Linked DNA regions of Homo sapiens: region 2 is linked to region 1. Evidence: fine-mapped expression QTL. A gene starts in region 1. The other region holds a variant in brackets. All regions are shown on one strand. Distances are from middle to middle. Region 1 holds the start of PRKAB1-AS1 (PRKAB1, TMEM233 and CCDC60 antisense RNA 1). Region 2 overlaps PRKAB1-AS1 (PRKAB1, TMEM233 and CCDC60 antisense RNA 1).

Evidence for each region.
Region 2: its variant is fine-mapped to the expression of PRKAB1-AS1 in skeletal muscle (GTEx, PIP above 0.99). The same link has a PIP of 0.9 or more in atrial appendage, breast, lung, subcutaneous fat, thyroid and visceral fat.

What each region holds. Positions count from the first base shown.
Region 1 is chr12:119,662,936-119,675,113 of GRCh38, forward strand. It overlaps PRKAB1-AS1 (PRKAB1, TMEM233 and CCDC60 antisense RNA 1), which reads right to left and starts at 5,192. Exons shown (of 3, transcript NR_188494.1): 1 at 5,008-5,192. PRKAB1 (protein kinase AMP-activated non-catalytic subunit beta 1) reads left to right here and starts at 5,198. Exons shown (of 7, transcript NM_006253.5): 1 at 5,198-5,468; 2 at 9,366-9,529; 3 at 11,029-11,122; 4 at 11,405-11,519. The coding sequence starts at 5,310. LOC124903033 (a long non-coding RNA gene) reads right to left here. Exons shown (of 2, transcript XR_007063485.1): 2 at 11,465-12,178. RefSeq lists enhancers at 2,766-2,910, 5,045-5,454, 5,893-6,528, a cis regulatory region at 2,830-2,847 and a silencer at 4,675-4,944.
Region 2 is chr12:119,557,980-119,570,157 of GRCh38, forward strand. The region is part of intron 1 of PRKAB1-AS1 (PRKAB1, TMEM233 and CCDC60 antisense RNA 1); the gene reads right to left. Among named protein-coding and RNA genes, the nearest start is that of TMEM233, 30 kb to the right of the region's middle. The variant C/T (reference allele first, on the strand shown) is at 5,345.

The DNA of each region.
Region 1 (12,178 bases):
AGAGATGCCAGGTGCAGTGGCTCACACCTGTAATCCCAGCACTTTGGGAGGCCGAGGAGGGTGGATCACCTGAGGTCAGGAGTTTGAGACCAGCCTGGCCAACATGGTGAAACCCCGTCTCTACTAAAAATACAAAAAGTAGCCAGGCGTGGTGGGGTGCGCCTGTGGTCCCAGCTACTTGGGAGGCTGAGGCAGAAGAATCGCTTGAACCCGGGAGACGGAGGTTGCAGTGAGCCGACATTGCACCACTGCACTCCAGCCTGAGTGAAAAGAGTGAAACTCCATCTCAAAAAAAAAAAAAAAGAGGATAGACTTGAGGTGAACTTTATTAAGAACATTGTGTTACCTTGAACTGGGCACTTCTCCCTTCTAGGTTTCAGCTTACCCTGTGAGTGAAGCTATTTATTTAAAAAAAACTTTATTGAAAATAAAATAAAGATACAGGAAACTACACAAAAGAAATGTATGGCTTAGTAAGTTACTACAAGGCAAACATGTTAATAATTACCAACCCAGGTCAAGAAACAGAATTTTCTCAGACAACCTAAAAGTCACAAAATGAGGCTATTTGCCAATTAAGGTTGTAGACCAAATGCTGTAGAATGAACTTCTTTTAATTCTATGTTGATGACTCTCTGTCACAATATTCACATCTCAGTGCAAAGAGAACACAAGAATGTCTAGCAAGAAAAGATGGACAAGTTTCTCAAACATTGGCAGTGTTACTTACATTGGCTAGGCAAAATTCAGAAGGCCTGGTGGAAATCTGGTTAAGCCCTAAAAGTAAGCTTGTAATTCTATCCTAGCAGCCCACACACATTTGAGTCTGTCTTAGTCAGCTCAGACTGCTATAACAAATCATCAACTGGGTGGCTTAAACAACAGAGATTTACTTCTCCCAGGTCCGAAAGCTGGAAGTCTAATATCAGTGATATAATTTGGATACTTTTCCCCCTAAATCTTACACTGAAATGTAATCCCATGTTGGAGGTGAGGCCTCCAACATGGTGGGAGGTGACTGCATCATGGAGGTGGACTTCTCATGAATAGTGTAGCACCATCGTCTTGGTGCTGCCCTCACAAGATCTGGTTGTTTAAAAGCGTGCGGCACCTCCTCCCACTTTTTTTCTTACTCCCACTCTTGCCATGTGATACATCAATACATCGGCTCCCCCTTGGCTTCCTGAGGCCTCACCAGAAGCAAGCAGATACCCAGAGCCATGCTTGCTGTACAGCCTACAGAACCATAAGCCAAGTAAACCTCTTTTCTTTATAACTTACTCAACCTCAAATATTTCTTTATAGCAATACAAGAATGGCCTAATACAATCAGGGTGCCAGGATGGTTGATGTGTGGTGAGGGCTCTTTCCCTGAGTTGCAGATGGCCGCCTTCTTGCTTTGTCATCACATGGCCTTTCCATTGAGCATGGGCGTGAATAGACAGCATGCGAGCAAGCTCTCCAGCGTCTCTTCTTCCCATAAGTACCCTGATCTCATCATGGGGGCCCCACTCTCATGAGCTCATCTAACCCTAATTACCCCTTGAAGGCCCCACCTCCAAACATTATAAAATTGGGAGTGGGAGTGCAAATGTATGAATTTTGGGGGGATACAATTTAGTCTACAGCATAGTCCAAATGTGAAATTTCTTCCTCCAGCTACCGATGTTTAGTGAGAACACTGCCTGTTCTCACCACATGTGCATATGTGTGTGGACTCTTTCCTCTGGAGGGCAAGAACTTGGTTTTGTTCACTGTTGTAACCAAGAGTTACAACAGTGCCTGGCTCATAATTGGCACTCAATATTGCCATTGAGTTATTTGTGATCAGAGCCCTGGCTGTTCTTAGATGGGGAGGGTTCTTCAGAACAGTACAAATGTTTGTAGACAGGCCAGCTGGGGAACCAAAGGTCTTTTTGATGAGGTGCCATGACCATGATGTAGTGGGGAGTGGCCAGGTGATCCAGAATTCAGTCTCAGTATGACCTATGATCATCTGAGTGACCTCAGGCAAAACTGTTCGATCTCTGGGACTTAGACTCTTCCTTATATAAAACAAATGGGTTGGTCAGTTCAGAAGTGCTATACTGATTCTAATCCATCCTATGGAGGAGGCCCCAAAACATTATCCTTAACCCTTTTAATCATAAATTTAAGGATAAATGAGATTTTATCTCACTCTGGGTGACTTTTAAGGACTTGAAAACCTACTTCTTTTTGTGCTTGGAGCTGGAGTGAATTTGAAGCCAGGGTTGCGGGGGTGGGGGAGGGGTACTCCTAGCTGTGGCTGTGTTAAAATTGCCCTGGTTTGTTTGGGGGAGAATCTAGGGTATTTATCATTTGTCTTTGCCCTGGTGCCAGACAGACAGCAGTGAGTAGATGATGCCTTTTACACAGCAATGTGCTAACAGTTATACTTCCTGGCACACCTCCAGCCCCCAAGATGGAATGGTCTGACATCCATATCAGCAGAGAATCAGAGAAAGATGAGACGCTCTGATGCTTAGGAAAGTCACAAACCATTGTTACACAGATAAGTAACACAAAATGACCCAAGAGAGACACAGCTGGGACCCAAGTAGACACTTGTAATTGGCGAGTCTACCCTACCCATGATTTTCAATATGGGGTCAATAGCTGATAGATACCAATGTTAGTTTCTTTGTCATGAAATCTTGATACAATGTGGTAAGAGTTTCCAATCAGCAGTTGGTGGCATCCTCAGGATATTGTTGATTGTATTTGACATCAAGGGCCACCCATGCTTTCACTGTTATCTTATTCAAGCTAGTGCAGATGTCTTAAAACTTTCTTCATGCATCAAAGCATCTGCATAGCTCAGATAAAGAATCCACAGCTCATGTGTTCTTTCTTATCTCTCCGGCTGTTTGGGAGAGATTTCAAAACTCAACACCCCACTGTCTCATGTAACCAAGTCAGGGCCACTATTAGAAAAGCAGCTCAAAGAAGATATCCTGGGTCATCCACAGTATCTTAGCTTATTTAATTCAGCAAGCACATTCAACATTTCTGATTATACTGAATACATTCAAATTCTCAGTCATCAGCTTCAGGAAGACCCTCCTGGCTCCCATCCCTTTTCCTGGCTCCCATCCCTTTTCCTGGCCTGGCTTAAGTCCCTTCTGGGCTCCCACAGGATCCCTTACCTAGCTATATTATTGCTTTTCTGTGGGTCGGTGCCAGCCTGTACTGTATTAATTCCTTTGGGGCTGGAACCATATCTTATTTTTTTAAATTAAAAAGTAGTACATCCTCACAATAGAAAACTTTTCAAATACAGAACTATATAAATGAAAAGTGAAAGTCCCTTTTCTGTCTGCTCCTATTTGCAATCTCCCTCCTCTCCCCACAGAAGACCACTATTAACAATGTGTTGTATACCCTTCCAGAACTTTCCATTTGCTAGCCTAATAGTGCTAATAAAAGTGTTAACAGTTATTGAGTGTTTACTAAGAGTCAAGTGCTATGCTCAGCATTTTTATGCACGTTCCCAATTAATTCACAAAACAAGCCTATGAAGTAGGTGTTATTTTTGTTCCCATTTCACAAAAGAAGAGACTAAGGTGACAGTTACTAAATGGTAAAGCCAGAATCTGAACATGGCCAGGCTGAATTCAGAGCTCCTGCCCTTGAACTTGTTCTCTCACTTGCTTCCGGACCTTGCAATATCATAGACACTTCCCCATAGTGACCTAAAAATGGTTTCTCCCTTTTTAAAAGTTGCTTGGTATTCTACAAAATGAATGTATTCCATTCATTTTGCCATTCTCCTACTGAACAACTTTTAGGATTTTGTAGTTTTTCATTTCCTTATTTCACCAAGTGTAAGATTCCATTATTGTAAAAAGCATCCAGTTTCAGAAATTAAAATATATGGGGGCATGGGGGGTGACAAGTGCATCTTAGAATATATTTTTGCATGTAAATATTTTGTAGATAATGCTTGTAAATAATTTTCATGTGTGTATTTCTGCACAAGTTTCCTAGGAGTAAAATTGTGTGTCAAAATGAAGGTGCATTTTTAAATTTTGATGCATACTGCTGAATTCCCCCCAGGAAACCTTATCTTAGTCATCTTGTGTTCCTCATTTCCTTAGCACAATGTCTGGTACTTTTTTAGGTACTAAATAAATGTTCAGTGGGTGAAATGCATGACCTGACCCGGCAAATGCAAAGTATTTTGAGATATTCACACACCAAAAAACCCACAAAATATGACAATGACTGACAATGAGAAGATGAGAATATTTTACTACCGTATTTGTATGCACTTCTTGTTGAAGCACTGACCAGAGTAAATGACAAACGCTAATGCATCTTATGCAGAAGGATGTTTCCGAAGTGATTACAAGATATCTTGCAAAATTACCTATCAAAAGATTGCACACTCAATAAAAATACACGAATAACTCCAGCATTTTACAACCCCCAACCTACTAGACATAAGAAATTTCCAGAGATCTTATGGTCTGCCATTTTTTCAAATACCTGCAAGACTGCCTGCACCCCCGACCCTAATCTGTAGAAATCATGATTCTGCAGGTCTGCAGTGGGGGATGCATTTAACAAGCGCTCCAGGTTAACCTAATGCACTGTAAAGCGTGAGAACACGTGCATTAAAAGGGCTTTAAGAAGTGGAGTTTCTGAATCAGATTTGCATTTTAGAAAGATCCCTCTGGCTGCAGAGTGTAGAATCAACTATAAGTGAGCAAAGATAGCTAAATGGCATTATTCAGCCCAGCGCATGAACGGCTCAGATTGCCCGCGCGCTGGGGTGCCCCCTGCCGGCCCTCGGCAGCGCCTCGTCCTGGGCCTGGCCCTGGGCGGCCGGCTGCTGACTGCGACTGCGCGCTCCGAGGCCTGCAGAGACGGCCCGGGGCACCTGTTACCGCACCGCTCAAGACCGGAAGCGGAAATGGAATCGAGATAGCCTCGCGCGTTTAGCTGGCCGCCGCCACCTCCACGCCCTAGGCCGGGCCGACTTACGGAGTCGCCGGAAGCGGAAGTCGCTGAGGGGTGGTGAAGCGGTTGGGAAAGTGTCGGTTTATCTTCGCGCCCCTTGCGTTCTTGCCGCGGCTTGCCTGGGCAGGTAAAGCGCGATTGCGAGAGCTCGGCAACCCTGCCGACTCAGCCGGAACCGGCTCCCGGCCCGAGGGGCGTGGTGTCCTGGTGCTCCGACTCCTTCCGCAGGCTCCTTGGGACCCGCGGTTCCGGGAGTCCCTTGCTCAGGGTCCCTTTCCTGCAGTGAGGCGCCGTCCGCCTTCCCTGTGTCCCCGCAGACCCCCATCATGGGCAATACCAGCAGTGAGCGCGCCGCGCTGGAGCGGCATGGTGGCCATAAGACGCCCCGGAGGGACAGCTCGGGGGGCACCAAGGACGGGGACAGGCCCAAGATCCTGATGGACAGCCCCGAAGACGCCGACCTCTTCCACTCCGAGGAAATCAAGGTGCGAGCGGTGTGGAGGAACCCGATTCCCCTTGACTAATGTTGAGGAGAGGAACCCTCCACTAGATTCCCGTCACATCCTTTCGAAAAACACCAGAACGGAGAGGGAGGTGGTACATTACCCGGTGCACTTAAAAGCCAGATGGTCCTGTAAGAGTTCTCTTAGCGGTCCAAGAACCTGTGTCTAATTACCAATATGAGAAAGTCACCCTGAGGGAGGAGGTGCTCACTTGGTTTAACATCATTAAGGAGAAAGCAGCTCTGGGACAGAGTTTCAAATTCTTAATTAATTCAGAGTCGAGCTAACAGTAATTGAGCCCCAGCTTCTGCTTTTCTCTTAGGTGTAATTAATTGCACTGCTTTGAGACAAATTCCCTCACCTTTACACAAACTGGAGCTTTTGTAAAAGTTAGTTTGGGAATTTATCCATTTTGGAGGCAAACCAGGTACATATACAAGCTGAAAGTAGAGCGGAACAGCTGACGGCAGTTGCCAGAGGTGTTTAGTTCTGCCCAACACTTTTGATTCACCCTACTTATTTTTTAAAAGACGGTGGTCTCACTAATTAGCCGGGCGTGGTGGCGGGCGCCTGTGGTCCCAGCTACTCGGGAGGCTGAGGCAGGAGAATGGCGTGAACCCGGGAGGCGCAGCTTGCAGTGAGCCGAGGTCGCGCCACTGCACTCCAGCCTGGGCGACAGAGCTAGACTTCGTCTCAAAAAAAAAATATAAATAAAAATAAAAAAGACGGTGGTCTCACAATGTTCTCCAGGCTGGTCTCGAACTCCCGGGTTCAAGCAATCTTTATGCCTTGGCCTCCCAAAGTGCTGGGATCGCAGGCGTGAGCTACGGTGCTGGCCGGTTCAGCCTACTTTTTTTTTTTTTTGAGACCGAGTCTCGCTCTGTCGCCCAGGCTGGAGTGCAGTGGCGCGATCTCGGCTCACTGCAAGCTCCGCCTCCTAGGTTCACGCCATTCTCCTGCCTCAGCCTCCCGAGTAGCTGGGACGACAGGCACCCGCCACCACGCCCGGCTAATTTTTTATATTTTTAGTAGAGACGGGGTTTCACCGTGTTAGCCAGGATGGTCTCCATCTCCTGACCTCAGGAGATCCGCCTGCCTCGGCCTCCCAAAGTGCTGGGATTACAGGCGTGAGCCACTGAACCCACCCTACTTATTTTTTTTTTTTCCTTCTTTGAGATGGAGTCTCACTCTGTTGCCCAGGCTGGAGGGCAGTAGCACAATCTCGGGGCACTGCAACCTTCGTCTCCCGGACTCAAACCATCCTGCCTCAGCCTCCCGAGTAGCTGGGACTACAGGCGTGTGCCACCATGCCTGGCTAATTTTGTGTATTTTTGGTAGAGGTGGGGTTTCGCCATGTTGCCCAGGTTGGTCTTGAACTCCTGACCTCAAGTGATCCGCCCGCCTGGGCCGCCCAAAGTGCTGCGATTACAGGCATGAGCCACCACTCCCGGCCTCACCCTGCTTTTTTTTAAAGCGTACATAGAAAAGTCTTTCAGCTTCTAGAGGTCAGTGGGCGGTGAGGGTCTGTCTGAAGGAGGCAGCCAGCAGCTACTGAACTTCTCTCTAGTGTTGTTTAAATATGACTTAATCGTGCTTAAGCAGGCCAGTGCAAACATTTTTCTTCCTGCTGCAGCCTGTTTAAATTCAAAAACTCAGGTGACTTAACTCCTGCTTCAACCACACTCCTGTTAACCACCTTCATATGGTGGATATTTCCAGCCGCAGGGCTCAGTCCAAGGACACTTAGTGATTCTGGCAGCTGGTATTTATGTGTTATGTCCAAAAGGAACTAATTGTTTCAAGGAACAAAGTAGGTTTAGGAAAGATAAAGCTGCCCTCTGCCCAACATACCCTGTTAGTATCCAATTTCATGTTAATCATCATCCATTTAATTGCTTGGCAGCTCATTCCATCTGTGTTTGTCCTCATGTTGAGCGAGGTGATCACATCTCACACCTTCTTTTGGATCTTAGTTTTGAGCCTGACTACAAAGAGGCTGCTTTTATGTGGCCCTACAACCTGTGGTTTGAACTTGCTCTCTGAATTTGTTGCATTCTTGAAGAGCTGTGTGCAAAGTGAACTTTAGAATCATGTTTCTCTAATGACTTGACGTCCTTTCCCCAGGAGGTAATTTTGGTCCCTGGTCCCAAGAAGGCTATTTAAGACACCAAAGGAATCAAAACTACTTTCTTCAGAAGTATTTGTTCTGTTACTATTCCAAAACTCCTCCAGGAAATGTTGAGCACACACATCATCTATGGGGAATGATTTCAAGCAGCGTCCATTCTCACTTCATTAGAAGTTACTGAAATCCCCAGATACCAAAAAAGTCGTGAATTCTTTTAACTACACTAGGGTGCTATTTTGGTCATAATTAGTTATCCTTAGTGTGAAGTGATTCCAGTCTGTTATTTAATATGTAGATCTTGTTAGAATTCAAAGAATACAGGCATCATTTGGATAAGCTGAGGTCGGTATTTGAGATGAAGGTGCTAGAAGCCTGCTTAACTCCCTGAAGAGTCTTTTCCAGCCTGAACCTTCTGCTCTTTTTAAGTCTTTGGCTTCTGACTGGGAAAAAATCTAAAAGGTGCATGACTACATATGTCATCCAGATAGATTTGGATGAGTTTATTTCTTATTCTGGAATACCTCAGTTATACGGAGCTTACCACACTGGAGGTTATCATTTATCCTAATGAGGGTTCAGTCTTTGTCTTGCTTTATTCCCCAGTCCCTAGACAGAACTTTGTGAGTAGTTTTTCCCTTCCTCAAAATCTGGATTTGCCTATTTTCAAGTTGACAGCTCTAGAATTGTTCCTCTTAAATTTTCATGTACAGTCATACATCACTTAATGACAGGGACATATTCTGAGAAATACATCATTAGGTGATTTTATCATTGTGTGAACATCATAGAGTGTACTTACACAAACCTAGTCTGTTCTCATGCTACTATGTAGAAATACCCGAGACTGGGTAATTTATAAAGAAAAGAGGTTTAATTGACTCAGTTCCGCATGGCTGGGGAGGCCTTAGGAAACTTACAATCATGGTAAAAGGCACCTCTTCACAGGACGGCAGAAGAGAATGAGAGCAAGCAGGGGAAATGCCAGATGCTTATAAAACCATCAGATCTCATGAGACTCACTCACTGTCAGAGAACAGCATGGGGAAACCGCCCCCATGATCGATACCTCCACCTGGTCCTGCCCTTGACACGTGGGGATTATGGGGATTACAATTCAAGGTGAGATTTGGGTGGGGACGCAGAGCCAAACCGTATCACCTAGTCTATATGGTGTAACCTGTTGCTTATGGACTATAAACCTGTACAGCATGTTATTCTACTGAATACTGTAGACACTTATTCCACAAGTATATTTAAGGATTTGTGTACTTAAATGTATCTAAACATAGAAAAGATAACAATAAAAATATGGTATAATCTTATGGGACTACCATATACACAGTCCGTCGTTGACTAAGACATCATGCACATGACTGTACTTCAAATCTTGCTTGATTAAGGGAGGAACATGACATTAAGCTAGTCTTGGATTCGTAGTAGCCCCTTCCAAGTGTGTTTCATAGCTTCTTCTAGAATTTTGATGTCAACTTCTTTAATGACAACAATAGCTAATAATTAGCACTCACTGTGTCAGACACTATATAGAGCACTTACATGGACTGTCTCAGTCTTCACAACCTTAAAAAATATATTTCTATTTTGCAGGCAAGGAAACTGAGGCACCACTAGTAAGTTTCCGATCCTAACCATGAACCAAGATAGTAACAGCTGCGTCTTTAGAATGAATTGTCAATATTGTCTGTTGTAGGGAGCTCGCTTATGGCTTTCTGAGTAAACTGCTCTGCTTCTAGGCACCAGAGAAGGAGGAATTCCTGGCCTGGCAGCATGATCTGGAAGTGAATGATAAAGCTCCCGCCCAGGCTCGGCCAACGGTGTTTCGATGGACGGGGGGCGGAAAGGAAGTTTACTTATCTGGGTCCTTCAACAACTGGAGTAAACTTCCCCTCACCAGAAGGTAATTGCCTGGGGAGTGTTCACATATTTGTCTTAACATAAATTCTCTTCTTTCTAAAACATCTCTGAGAGAGAACAGAAAATGGATGTTTCTATAAAATGGATGCCTAGTGGAAAAATAATTTTGCTTAATAAGTCTTAAGGTTCAAATGTTAAACCTTGGTGGTCTCTAGGTTTAGAGTACAGAAGAAAGAGAATATTTCTGTGTCACAGACATCTTTCACTTCAGATCCTCAGCTATCTGTTCGGTCAGGACTTTTCCACAGAAACACAAAAATCTGTCTTAATGCAGTAAGGGAGCACTGGGCTGGAATCTTAGAAACCCACATTTGAGCCCACATTGGCCATGCTGTCAGTCACCTAACGTTAGTTAACCTGAGCCTCAGCGTTCGTTTCTGTAAAGAGGGAATATTGGACCAGATCATCTCTGAGGTTTCATCTAACTTTGACTCTGCGTAATACTTTGTTTGAAAAGTACATGTTGGCTGGGCATGGGGGCTCATGCCTATGATCTCAGCACTTTTGGGGGCTGAGGCAGGAGGATTGCTTGAGGCTAGGAGTTCAAGACCAGCCTGGGCAACATAGTGAGACCCCCATCTCTACAAAAAAATTAAAAATTAGCTGGACATGGTGGTGCACACCTGTATCCCCAGCTACTCGGGAGGCTGAGATGGGAGGATTGTTTGAGCCTGAGAGGTCAGTGCTGTAGTGAGCAGTGGTTGCACCACTGCACTCCAGCCTGGGCAACAGAGCAAGACTTTGTCTCCAAAAAGAAAAGAAAAATACATGCTATGTAGGTGTCATTAGCAAGGATTATAGTAAGACATTTTATCAGGAACCCCAGCATGGACTTCTGTCTTAAGTTGTCAGTGAGAGAACACCTTTAGTGAGTATTCTTGATAAAATGAGGGAGAAAGTGTCAGGCCTATTGTCAGGGGCTGCCTGCTTTCCAGCGTTTCCATTGGAGAAGGAGGGAGCCACTCAGCACAGCAGTCACAGGTCAGTTCAAGCCAGGGGACAAAACAACCCAGTGAAGGGGCTCTTCCGGAGTTTGGTTTTTCAGTCATTAGGCAAGTTTCTTTAGAGAACATTTGAGCTTCCTATTCAATTGATCCCTTCTCCTGCCCAAGGCAAAGTGACAAAGGGTAAAACGAGGCAGCTTCTGTTTATCTTGTGTTGTCATCCTCCTTGGCATCCAGGAGCCTTGCGAGCTTGAGACGCACAAATGCCTGACTGTTGACCTTTTAACATTAGGGATGTGGTTTCCTGGTATTTGAGTAAGGTGAGTTTTCAGGAAACTGTGTCGCACTGCTGCTTCCTTATAGCCTTTTCAGATTGAGGTCATTATGCTGAATTGTCTAAATGGGCTAAAAATGTTTGTTCTCCTGCAGCTGAACTCTTGGTTTTATGTGGAAACGTTTTGTTCTGTAGCTGGTTTGGCAAGTAAGCTCGGGGGGCAGCCCACCCCACGGAAGTCCTCTGCTTCCTTTTTCCTTGCAGCCACAATAACTTTGTAGCCATCCTGGATCTGCCGGAAGGAGAGCATCAGTACAAGTTCTTTGTGGATGGTCAGTGGACGCACGACCCTTCCGAGGTACTCTTCCTCCCACCTCTGGTCCTCTGGGTGCCCGCACATTCCAAACAAATCACCTTCCCAAGAGATTGCCGCTAGGTCCCTTTGCCCAGCTAGTAAAAGTCCCCGTGTGTGGCAGAGCTGAGTAGCAGCACTACCTGTCAGACAGTTGGCATACTTGACCAAGATGAGCAGGGTGGCTAGCCAGGAGATGAGGCCTTCCAGCCAGGAATTCCAAGTCCTCTGAAGAATAACTCCGCAGACCTTCCACGTTATGATTTCTGCCTATCTGTCTCTTCCCAGCCCATAGTAACCAGCCAGCTTGGCACAGTTAACAACATCATTCAAGTGAAGAAAACTGACTTTGAAGTATTTGATGCTTTAATGGTGGATTCCCAAAAGTGCTCCGATGTGTCTGGTATGAACACAGTTATTTTATACCACATGCGTGCAGGTGGGGGCTGTACAGTCTAGACATACTCTTGTTTCTCTTGCCTCTCTTGAGCTGAAGCTGCCCAGTCAGATAGGCATTTATAGCCCCCACTTAAAGGCCACAGAACTTAATTCCTGTCAGGTTGTTGAAATTTAGCCCTAAGGGAGCTACAAGTCATTTCCCTGGTCATCTCAGGTATTCAGTAGGTCTGCTTGGCCACAGAACGCAGACAGCAGAAATGGAACCATAGCTTGATCTCGTGCCAAGGGCAGGGCTGAAGAGGCCCTGGAGGGTGGCACTGAGTCAGTGACAGCCCAGCACTGGGGAAGCCTGTGTCTCATCCCACTTGTGGTGCCTGAAGAATTTCAGCCTGACAGGTGTAAATGGACACCTCAGTGACCTTAGCAGTCACTTATGTGGTACATTAGCACCTTGTCAGAATCCCTTTGGGGAGGATGCGGCTCCCCACGGGAAACAGCCTGCACAGCCCAACTCTCCTTGATGGGAAGCTATTTGGTACAGAAATACAGACCCAGTAAAACTTCTCCATCTTGTAAGAGCCTTTCAGGCATCGAGGTTTCAATAAATTGCTTTCCCTCCAAGCCCCACAGGAAGAAACTACCTGGAACATGATTCATACAGTT
Region 2 (12,178 bases), 100 kb before region 1:
CATCATAAGCATTTTATATGCATCAAATTTTTAAAATATGAGGAAGGGGTCATTATCAATACTTTATAATGAGGAAACTGAGGCTCAGAGAGGTGCAGCAATTTGGTTGCAAGTGACAGAGTCTAAACTCAAACTAACTTAGACTAAAGGGGAATTTGTTGCCTTGAGGAATACAATGAAGTGTTGAAACATCAAGCTCTGAAAGGGATAAAGATACAGATGGATCTTTGATGCAACTGGAACCAGGGTTTTTTTTCTCTCTGCTCCTCTCTTCTTCCCTCTGTGCATCAGCCACATCCTGCTGCATGCCAGCTTCTAACACACGTGGCAATGTGGCTTCTCAACTCCCCAGGCTCTCCTCTCTGTTCTGGTTTCAAAAATCCTAGGGCAAAGCTCTGATTGGTCCATCTTGGGTCAGGTGTTCACCTTGAACCAATCAACAGCAACCAAGAGAGCAAGATCATGTGAAAACATGGCAGTTCACTCAAATCACATGGGTTGGAGTCAGGGAAGAAGAAAGAAAATGATTTCCCAAAAAGAAGAATGATATATGTTCCCAGAAGAAAGAGAAAACTACCTATGATAGTCCACTACTTCCAAGAATGAGTGCCAACAAGACTATTAAGTAGGGAGGAAAACTGACTCCTCCTTAAGGTTACACACTCTGAAAGTCCTCCAAAAATTCGAGGTCCAGACCACATATGGCATGCCAACTCAACTGAACATTAATTGACTTTTTACAGTGTACTGGCATTATATTCCAGGCTACCACATAGTATGGTCTCAGTAAATATTTGTTGGATGAATAATGCAAAGATGAATAAGGCAAGGTCCCTCTACTCAAAGAACTTACAGCATAGTAAGTGATGAAGGCAAAGAAACAGCCCAAAAGGGACATAGAACATAGTCTGAGAGCTCAAACAAATGGAAGATCACATGGGTTTGAGAACACATAGGGAGACAATAAGTTAGAAAAGTCATCAAGGAAGGAGGTCCTATTTGAGATCGGCCTTGAAAACAGAATGAGATTTCAATAGACAAAAATGTAAGAAAAGTGTTCCCCAGCAAGAGCAAAGCCATGTGAGCAAAGGCATGGAGGCAGGGATGGACATATCATCCAGGTTTTTTTTTTAATTGTACTAAAATATACATAAAATTTGCCATTTTAATCATTTTTAAGTTGACAATTCAATGGCATTAATTACATTCATATTGCTGTACAACTATCATCACTATCTTGAAACTCTTCCATCTTCCAAAACTCTTCCATCACCCTTGCAGAAACTCTGTACCCATTAAGCAATACCTCCCCATTCCCAGGAACATGGTAATCTCTAATCTACTTTCTGTCTCCTTAAATTTACCTAATCTATGTATTTACTGTAAGTGGAATTATACAACATTGATCACTTTGTGTTTGGCTTATATCATTTAGCATAATGCCTTCAAGTTTCATCCATGCTGAGGGATGTACTGTATCTTCATTCCTTTGTACACCTAAATAATATCCCATCATATGAATATTCCACATTCCCTTTATCGTTTCATTGGTGGATGGACATTTGGTTTGTTTCCACATTTTAGCTATTGTGACTAATGCTGCAGTGAACACTGATGAGCAAGTATCTGTTCAAGTCCTTGTTTTCAATTCTTTTGGTTATCTACCTAGAAGTGAAATTGCTGGGCTGTATAGTAATTCTCTTTAGCTTTTTGAGGAACCATCGTATTGTTTTCTGTAGCGGCTGCAGCATTTTACATTCCCACCAGCAATGTACAAGGGTTTCAATTTCTCTGCATCCTTGCCAACACTTATTATATTCCATTGTTGTTATTGTTGCTTTTAACAGCCATTCTAATAAAGGTGAAGTAGTATCTAGTTGTGGTTTCGATTTGCATTTTTTGTAATGACTAAGGGTATTTAGCATCTTTTCACATGCTTATTCAAGCCATCCAGTTTTACGAGTGCACAACCAACCATCATAAATCCAAGATGTTTAGGTTTCATTGTGTAGGCAGTAGGGAGCCAATGATAGTTTGGAAGCCAAAGAGTGGCATGACCAGAAATATAAAATCTTGGCAGAGGAGTATAAAATGAAGCCAGAGGACTAGTTAAGAGGCTACTTCAATGGTCCAAGCAAGGGACCTGCCACCTCCCAAGCTTGAGCCAGGGAGGTGGTAGTGGCAATGTAAGGAAAGGGACAGTTTCCAGACACATCATCTTTTCAACACAATGGAAGCAACCTATGTGCAATCATAAAGGGCTGGTTATGTAAGCATGGTATAGCCTATGTGATGAATTGCTCTGCATCTGTAAAAATAATGATGCCGATGAATAAATGAAACAGATGTTTCCAAGTAAATGAAAAAAGTAAGGTTACAACACAGCGTGTACATCATGATCCCATTTTTAGATAGATGATGCATAATTAGATCAGAATGCAAAGAGAAGGACAGACACTAAAGGTAAAAAAGACCTTGAACACCACACACGCAAATGTGAACAATGATCACCTCTTGCTAAACTAACCTCCCACCAAGATACTTGTATGTTCTCTTTTATTTTCTTCCTTGCCTTTATCACTATCTGAAAATATCTTATTCATTTGTTCATCTGTTCATAAATTCCAGGAAGGAGGGAGGGTGTCTGTTTTGTTCTCTCTCTATTCCCAGAACCTGGAATCTAGCCACAGGTGAAGCTCCATGGATATTTTTTGATGAAATCTTTTAGTGATGGGATCCATTTTTATTCTCTTACATATATTTTTTAAATGTAAAAAAGGAATCTATGACTTTCGTCATAAAAAAAGTAGCAAAAAGAAGAGACATAAACAGGCATTATTCTCACCACCATCACAATGGCACTGGTTCTTTGATCACAGCTGTTACCCCTAAAAGAACCTCAAAGCCAGATTCTAACACCAGACCCCACTAGCACATCAAAGTGCTTTTCTCAGCCTGTGAACCCACTCACTGCCTCTCTTCCCTTCCTCCAGCTTCCTGGGTATCCACTTCCTCCACCTGTGCCCACTCAGCACAGGATGTTATTAACACCATTGCACCCCCACAGACTTAGGAGCCTAGAATAACCTGCTACCGGTAGGGCAGATACTTGGAAGACTCTTCCAGGAAGAGGAGGTCATCGATCAATGCCCATGCTTGTCCCATCCTCTCTTCTCACCTCCCTTGCACCCAGTCCTGGGGACTTTGGAGTTCATTTTTAAACACCAGAGCTGGCTAACATTGGAGGAGGATACCAGGCTGTGGGCATGGAAAAGTACGAGTGAAGCCAAGAAGCCCAATCAGAAATTCATCTCATAATTTCAGGCATCAGCACCTGGCTGTTAGGCCCAGCGTTTCTTAACCAGAGATTAACCAAGGCTGGGTCTGAATCCCTATGAAGAAAGACATGAGCCACTAATAATAAAGTATCAATGTTTTTAGGTAATTTAATATATTATTTTATTTATTTATTTTTTGAGAAAGAGTCTCGCTCTGTCATTCAGGCTGGAGTACAGTGGCACAATCATAGCTCACTGCAGCCTCCAACTCCTGGGCTCAAGCAATCCTCTTGCCTCAGTCTCCCAAGCAACTAGGACCACAGGTGTACACCACCACACCTGGCTAACTTTTTAAAATGCTTTGTAGAGACAGGGTCTACCTATGTTGCCCAGGCTGGTCTTGAACTTCAGGCCTCAAGCGATCCTCCTGCCTTGGCCTCCCAAAGCACTGGGATTGCAGGCATGAGCCACCGTGACTGACCCTATAATATTTTACTGTATGATATGCTATATAGAGAAAAGTACATGTATTTATATACTACATATATGTGCTATATAAAATGTATTTACAATTTAAATACAGAACATTGTATTTACCATATACATATATATATAGATAGAGGAGGTTCATTCATTTATTCATTTGTGCTGTGAAACTGAATTTTGATATTTTCTACTATCTTGTAGGCTCAAAGTGGGGGACAAACAGGTATTTTAAAGCCACCAGCATTTTTTTCAGCTACTCATCAGACAGAGATTGAGTTCATCACAGTGGTTCTGAAGAGAAGAGGAAGGAAAATTTCTGTTTTGTTTTGGGAGAACACTCTTGGACTCCTGGAGGCATTTCAGTTAAGCAAAGGGTAAACAATCTCCTCTTTTTTTTTTTTTTTTTTTTTGAGATGGAGTCTCGCTCTGTCGCCCAGGCTGAAGTACAGTGGCGCAATGTCAGCTCACTGCAACCTCCACCTCCTGGCTCAAGTGATTCTCGTGTCTCAGCCTCCTGAGTAGCTAGGATTATAGGTGCTCAACATCATGCCTGGCTAAATTTTTGTATTTTTAGTAGATGGGGTTTCACCACGTTGGCCAGCCTGGTCTGGAACTCCTGACCTGAAGCAATTGGCCTACCTCAGCCTCCCAAAATGCTGGGATTACAGGTGTGATCCGCCACACCTGGCTGCAATCTCCTCTTCTGAAAAGGTCATGGAGGGAAGAAATGCATCTCTCTAAAGAATACTTTGTGTGATGGAGAGGAAAGGCTTCTCCTTCTCTCTCTCTGGAACAAAGTGGAAGTTGGGATTTGGAGGAGAGATAGTCAAAGACTCCAACGACATGGGAAACAGGATGAGCCCACGACACCATGGCAGGAGAAAAAGGTTCACCAGTTGGGGTGCTCATGAGCACGATGCATGAGCTCTAAAATATGTGAAGTCCGGGATTTAGGGTCCAGGCTTTCCTATGATGTTTTTCTGCTCTCACCTCCAGATCTCCAGTAAAAGAAATGGGGCTAATTAGGGCAATGAAAGATGTCTAGCAGAGAACTTAGGAGGAGGCTCCCAGAGGAATACTCTTAAAACAGATGTGGGAACATGAAAGCATTCCTCAAGGACCCCCAGAAATGCCCAGGGAGCACTACCTGGTATAAAACTGCAATTCTTTTGGATCAACGCAAAACAGAGCTCAATTATATAACAACTGTAATGGAAGATGACCCATGAAAGCTGGAAAATCCCAAGACATCTGGGTAACAATGAACTCCACAGAAACGACTGAGATCAATTCTGTATTCAGAAATAGAAAGACAATGGTGAGGCTGGGCGCAGTGGCTCAATGCCTGTAATCCCAGCACTTTGGGAGGCCAAGGAGAGTGGATCACAAGGTCAGGAGTTCAAGACCAGCCTGGCCAACATGGTGAAACCCCATCTCTATTAAAAATACAAAAATTAGCCGGGCGTGTTGGTGGACGCCTGTAATCCCAGCTACTGGGGAGGCTGAGACAGGAGAATTGCTTGAAACCGGAAGGCAGAGGTTGCAGTGAGCCGAGATCACCCACTGCACTCCAGCCTGGG[C/T]GAAAGAGCAAAACTCCGTCTCAAAAAAAAAAAAAAAGAGAGAGAAAGACAATGGTGAGCAAGATGGACATGGTCTTGAACCTCACAGATAAATATTCAACAAGTACGTACTTGTGGATTCCAATGGATGTGACAGTCTAGTAAGAGTTTTGGCAAACTTTTTCTGTAAAGGAACAGAAAATAAATATTTGAGACTTTGTGAGTCGTATGGTCTCTGCTGAACTCGGCCATGGTGGTGTGAAAGCAGTCACAGACAATGCATAAACAAACAGGCAATGCTGTGTTCCCATTAAGCTTTATTTAAGGATACTGCAATTTGAATTTCATACAATTTTCACATGTCAGAGACTATTATTCTCTTTTTTAGCTACTTAAAAATGCAAAAATTATTCTTAGTTCTCAGGTCATACAAAAACAGGTGGCAGGATGGATGTGGACCATGGGGTGTGGTTTGGCTACTCCTGGTTGAAGGTTAGGCCTAAGACATACATAATAATAATTAATTAAAAATAAGCCGGGCGCAGTGATTCACACCTGTAATCCTAGCACTTTATGAGGCTGAGGTGGGTGGATCACCTAAGGTCAGGAGTTCGAGACCAGCCTGGCCAACATGGCGAAACCCCGTCTCTACTAAAAATACAAAAATTAGCTGGGCGTGGTGACGGGTGCCTGTAATCCCAGCTACTTGGGAGGCTGAGGCAGAGAATCACTTGAACCAGGGAGGCAGAGATTGCAGTGAGCCGAGATCACACCACTGCACTCCAGCCTGGGCAACAGAGCAAGACTCTATCTCAAAAATAATAATAATAATAATAACAATAAATAAAAATAGCTTATGGTCTTGAGCACAGGTCTAAGTGCCAGGTGCTATGCCAAGTATGCTTTGCTATAATGATATTACACTTATAATTTGGAATTTTTTTTAGAGCTCTGTCACTCAGGCTGGAGTGCAATGGCACAATTAGAGCTCATTATAACCCTGAACTCCTGGGCTCAAGCGATCCTCCCACCTCAGCCTCCTAAGTAGCTGGGGCTACTGGCAGATGCCACCATACCCAGCTGATTTCTTTAAATTTTTTGTAGAGATGAGGTCTGACTATGTTGCCCAGGCTGGTCTTGAACTCCTGGCCTCGAGCAATCCTCCCACCTCAGCCTTCCAAAGCACTGAGATTACAAGCATGAGCCACTGCACCCAGCCTATAAATTGGCTTTCTTCTCAACTTTCTTGAGTGAGAAAGAAGAGAGGGGTATTGCACTAATTTTCCAAGAATTTAGCATAACTGGGTGGTGTCATCCTGTCTCTTCAAAGAAAATGTCAAAATGACTGCCCTGGGCACCTCCTCTCAAGCTCTCCAAATGCCAAGCAAGAAAGGATCATTGGGTCCAATCTTGCCACTCTCTCTATATATATTTTAAAAACTATTTAGTGGCTGGGCACGGTGGCTCACACCTGTAACCCCAGCACTTTGGGAGGCTGAGGCAGGCAGATCACCTGAGGTCCAGAGTTGGAGACCAGCCTGGCCAACATGGTGAAACCCAGTCTCTACTAAAAATACAAAAATTAGGCCGGGCGCGGTGGCTCACACCTGTAATCCCAGCACTTTGGGAGGCCGAGGCGGGTGGATCACGAGGTCAGGAGATCGAGACCATCCTGGCTAACACGGTGAAACCCCGTCTCTACTAAAAAATACAAAAAATTAGCCGGGCGTGGTGGTGGGCGCCTGTAGTCCCAGCTACTTGGGAGGCTGAGGCAGGAGAATGGCGTGAACCCGGGAGGCGGAGCTTGCAGTGAGCCAAGATTGTGCCACTGCACTCAAGCTTGGGCGACAGAGCGAGACTCTGTCTCCAAAAAAAAAAAAATTAGCCAGGCGTGGTGGTGCGTACCTGTAATCCCAGCTACTCAGGAGGCTGAGGTAGGAGAATAGCTTGAACCCAGAAGGTGGAGGTTCCAGTGAGCTGAGATTGCACCACTGCCCTCCAGCCTTGGAGACAGAGTGAGACTCTGTCTCAAAAAAATAAAAATAAATAAATACATATATGTTTTTAAAAACCTATTTAGACAGAATTAACGGAAAATGCACCCAAACATAGCAACCATCCTGCCACCTCTGGTGACTCCATTTACCACCAGTTCCCCTTGCCCCAGTGACCATCTAACTTCTGGTCACAAATTGGCAAAAGGGATCACAGAAAACCAAGTGGCCTTGGGTCACCAGACCATCCTGCCCAACAAGGCAACCTTTGCTAAGAGTGACTCACTGTGGCAGAGAGGCAAGTTTAACAGGCATCTGGGCAGGAAGCACTGCCCTGTTTATTGATGGCAAACTGTTTGCCAGAGTAAGAGCTCTTTGGGGACTTCTGAAGGTGTTTGGCAAGCCCCAGTCCCGAAGGCTACTGTGCGCTAAGAAAGGACCTGTGGGCCTCTGAAAACTCAGCAGCTAAAAGGTCACCGCCCCAGAAGCCTATTAAGGAAACAGCATGAAAAGTTCTCCATCCCAGGAGGATGCATGGGAGCGAGCTACCATGTCTTTTTTTTTTTTTTTTTTTTGAGACCGAGTTTCGCTCTTATTGCCCAGGCTGGAGTGCAGTGTCACGATCTCAGCTCACTGCAACCTCCGCCTCCCAGGTTCAGGCGATTCTCCTGCCTCAACCTTCCTGAGTAGCTGGGATTATAGGCACGCACCACCATGCATGGCTGATTTTGTATTTTTAGTAGAGATGGCGTTTCTCCATGTTGGCCACGCTGGTCTCGAACTCCCAGCCTCAGATGATCCACCCGCCTCAGCCTCCCAAAGTGCTGAGATTACAGGCATGAGCAACCAAGCCCAGCCTACCACGTATCTCTTTAAGAGATGCCCCTCCTCTAGGAGTAAGTCACGCCCTCGACCCCATTCCCTGTAACTTCTCCCTTGGAGAAGTTCTCCCTTAGAGCAATTTGCAAAACTGTAATTCGGTATGTGTGTATATTTTATACCCACACGGCTTCAAGTTCTGTAAGTGTGTTTGCTGTGCTGTAATCCACTTAGCACAGTGCCAGACGCATGATAAAAACCTGTTGACCACATGAGATATCACCTCACACCCATGAGGATGGCTATAGTCAAAAGAAATTGAAAATAACAAATATTAGTGATGATAGGGAGAAACTGGAACCCTTGTGTACCATTGGTGAGAATGTAAAATAGTGTAGCTGTTACAGAAAACAGTATGGCAGTTCTTCAAAACATTAAAAAGAGAGTTGAAAGCACGGCCTCAAAAAGAGACTTGTATACCTATTTTCATAGCATTATTCACAACAGCCAAAAGGTGGAAGCAACCGAACTGTCCACCGACAGCTATTTAGGTTTGTGAAACAAAACCCAATCCAAGCCCACTCAAGCAAAAAAACAAAAATTCATTGGCTCAAATGAAAAAAAAGAAATCCAAAGATAGATGTTTCAGCCATAGCAGGATCCAGGTGTTCAAAATGGAAGATTTCAACACATATCTTGCAGTAACTGAGTCTTTGAACAACACAATTTAAAAATCTGATTTAATAGATATATACAGAACCCAGTACCCAACAATTAGAGAACACACATTCTTCTCAATTACATATGAAACAGTTACAAAAAGTGACCACATTTCAGGCAGTAAAGTGTTTCAACAACTTTCAAAGAATCAATGTCATATAGATTATGATCTCTGATCAGAATGTAATGGAGTCGATAACAAAAAGAAAACAAAAAATGTTGACCTTAGAGAATGTGCTTCTCAATTTTAAAAAGAAGAACATGCTTCTATATAACATGAATCCAAGAAAAATCATAATGAAAATGTACAAATACTTACAATTGAAAATAATGAAAATGCTATAAATTAAAGTTTATGGGATGCATCTAGTGAAGTACTTCAAAAAATGTATATTCTTAAATTTTTATATTAAAAATAAAGGCTAAAAATTAGTGAACTAAGTATCCAGGTTAGGAAGTTATAAATATAACAAAGTAAGCTCAAAGAAAGAAGGAAGGCAATAGTAATAGTAAAAAGAATATAAATTAATAGGCCGGTTGCAGCAGCTCATGCCTGTAATCCCAGCACTTTGGGAGGCCAAGGCAGGTGGATCACCTGAGATCAGGAGTTCAAGACCAACCTGGCCCACCTGGTAAAACCCCATCTCTACTAAAAATACAAAACATTGGCCGGGCATGGTGGCACACACCTGTAATCCTAGCTACTCGGGAGCCTGAGTCAGGAGAATCGCTTGAACCCTTGGAGGTGGAGGTTGCGGTGAGCCAAGATCATGCCATTGTACTCCAGCCTGGGCGACAAGAGCAAAAACTCCATCTCAAAAATATATATATTATATATATATATAAAATATATAATATATATTATAATATATGTATTATATATAATATATATAAATTATATATAATATATAATATATATAAATTATAATATATAATATATATAATATAATATATATTATATATAAATAAATAAATGATTTTTTAAAAAATGAAATGTTGGTTCTTCAAGAAAAAATAATAACAGATGCAGGTCTCTGGTGAGATTGATCTAGTAAAGAGAGAGAAAAAGCACAAATGGAGAATATGTCTAAAAATACGTAAAAGAGAGATTTTAAAAGATAATGAAATACTATGAAAAACTTCATGACAATAAATTTGACAGTTTAGACTACATGGAAAATTATATATGGAAAATTATATATTTTACAAAACTGGCTCAGAAAGAAACAGAAAACAAGAATAGTTCTAAAACGAAGAAAATTTGTCAGTAATTTAAAATATTTCCTCAAAGGAAAGAAAAAGATCTAGATAGAATTGTAAAAACTTACAGCAAATTTTCAAGAAACAGATAATTCCAATTTTATACAAGTGCTTCCGAAGAATTCCTGAGAGGAAATGTACCCGTTAATCTAATATAATTCCGATACCAAAACCAGACAGAAAATGAAAAAGGAAAGTTACAGGATAATCTTGCAAATAAATATATGTGCAAAAATCCTAAATATCGGAAAGCAAAACCTAGCTATATGTTCATGAAATATATCATTCATATATCGTATCGTAAACTATATCATATAATAAAATCCTTCATGGCCAATTTGGCTTATACCATGAACGTAAGATTAGCTTAACCTTTAAAAATCCTTTAATGTAAATTGTCACATTTTCAGATCAAAGGAAAAAAACTATATGATCTTGTCAATGGATGAAGAAAAGGCATTGGATAGAATTCAACATTCATTTGTAATTTGTTTTAAAAAACAGAGCACACTTAGCAAACTAGGAATAGGAGAAAAAAAATAGTTAACTTGATAAACGTGTCTACCTAAAACCTGTAACAGAAATCATAATTGCAGGTAAAATTTAGAAGTATTCCCTTTAGAGGAGGGAACAAAAGAAGGGTGCTCATTCTCACTTCTTCCATTCAAAATTGTACTGGATACCCCAGCCAATGCAATAATACGAGATGAATTAAACCAAGGTAGAATGATTAAAATATGGCAACAAAATGAATTATTTGCAATGAATGTGATTATTCACATAGAAACTGCAAAGACTCTATAAATTATTAGAATAAATTAGGCAATTTAGCAAGGTAATTGAATATAATAGTGATATAAAATTTAACTGTATTTATCTGCATCAACAACAAACAGAAATATAACATTTAAAATACTCAACAGGCCAGGCACAGTGTCTCACGCCTGTAATCCCAGTACTTTGGGAGGCCAAGACGGGCGGATCACTTGAGGTCAGGAGTTCGAGACCAGCCTGGCCAACACGGTGAAACTGCATCTCTACTAAAAATACAAAAATTAGCTGGGCTTGAACCCAGGAGGCAGAGGTTGCAGTGAGCCGAGATCATGCCACTGCACTCCAGCCTGGGTGACAGAGCGAGACTCCTTCTTAAAAAATAATAAATAATAAAATAAAATACTCAATGATGATGGCAAAATAAACTGGTAGCCAGAAATACAGATATTTTAAAAATAAGCAGAGCCTCAAGTGGAAAATTATACAACTATACAACTCCCTTGAAAGACATTAAAGACATATTTATATCAAGAAAGACATTTCTCCCCAAATTGATTATATAAATATTCAGGCAATTTCAAATGAAATTCTAATAAAGTTTTTTGTGAAACTTGAAAAGCTAATTCCAAAAGAGAAAAAAGCCAAAGACAGCCACGACATTTTTTGGAAAAGAAAAAGAAATCAAGACTTACCTTAGAAAACTATAGCAATTAAGATAGTACTTTATTGGTGCAAAAATATTAAAAATAGTTTAATTAAACAGAGTAGAGAGTGCAGACACAGTACTAGACATACGACAAAAGAAATATCACAGGTCACTAGGAAAAGTATACCCCTACTCTATAAACACCACTAGGACAATAAGCTATCTGTAAAAAAATTTTTTTTAATTTGATTTCTACTTCACACTATTAAAAAATACAGCTCCAAATGGATTAAAGACTTAAATGTGAGACCGGGCATGGTGGCTCACACCTGTAATCCCAGCATTTTGAGAGACCGAGGCAGGTGGATCACTTGAGGTCAGGAGTTCAAGACCAGCCTGGCCAACATGGCCAAACCCCATCTCTACTAAAAATACAACAATTAGCTGGGCTTGGTGGTGTGCACCTGTAATCCCAGCTACTCAGGAGACTGAGGCAGGAGAATCACTTGAACTCATGAGGCGGAGGATGTAGTGAGCTGAGATCACACTACTGCACTCCAGCCTGGATGATGAGACTCCGTCTCAAAAAAAAAAAAAAAAAAAAAGACTTAAATGTGAAAATAAAAGTCTAAATTTTTGAAG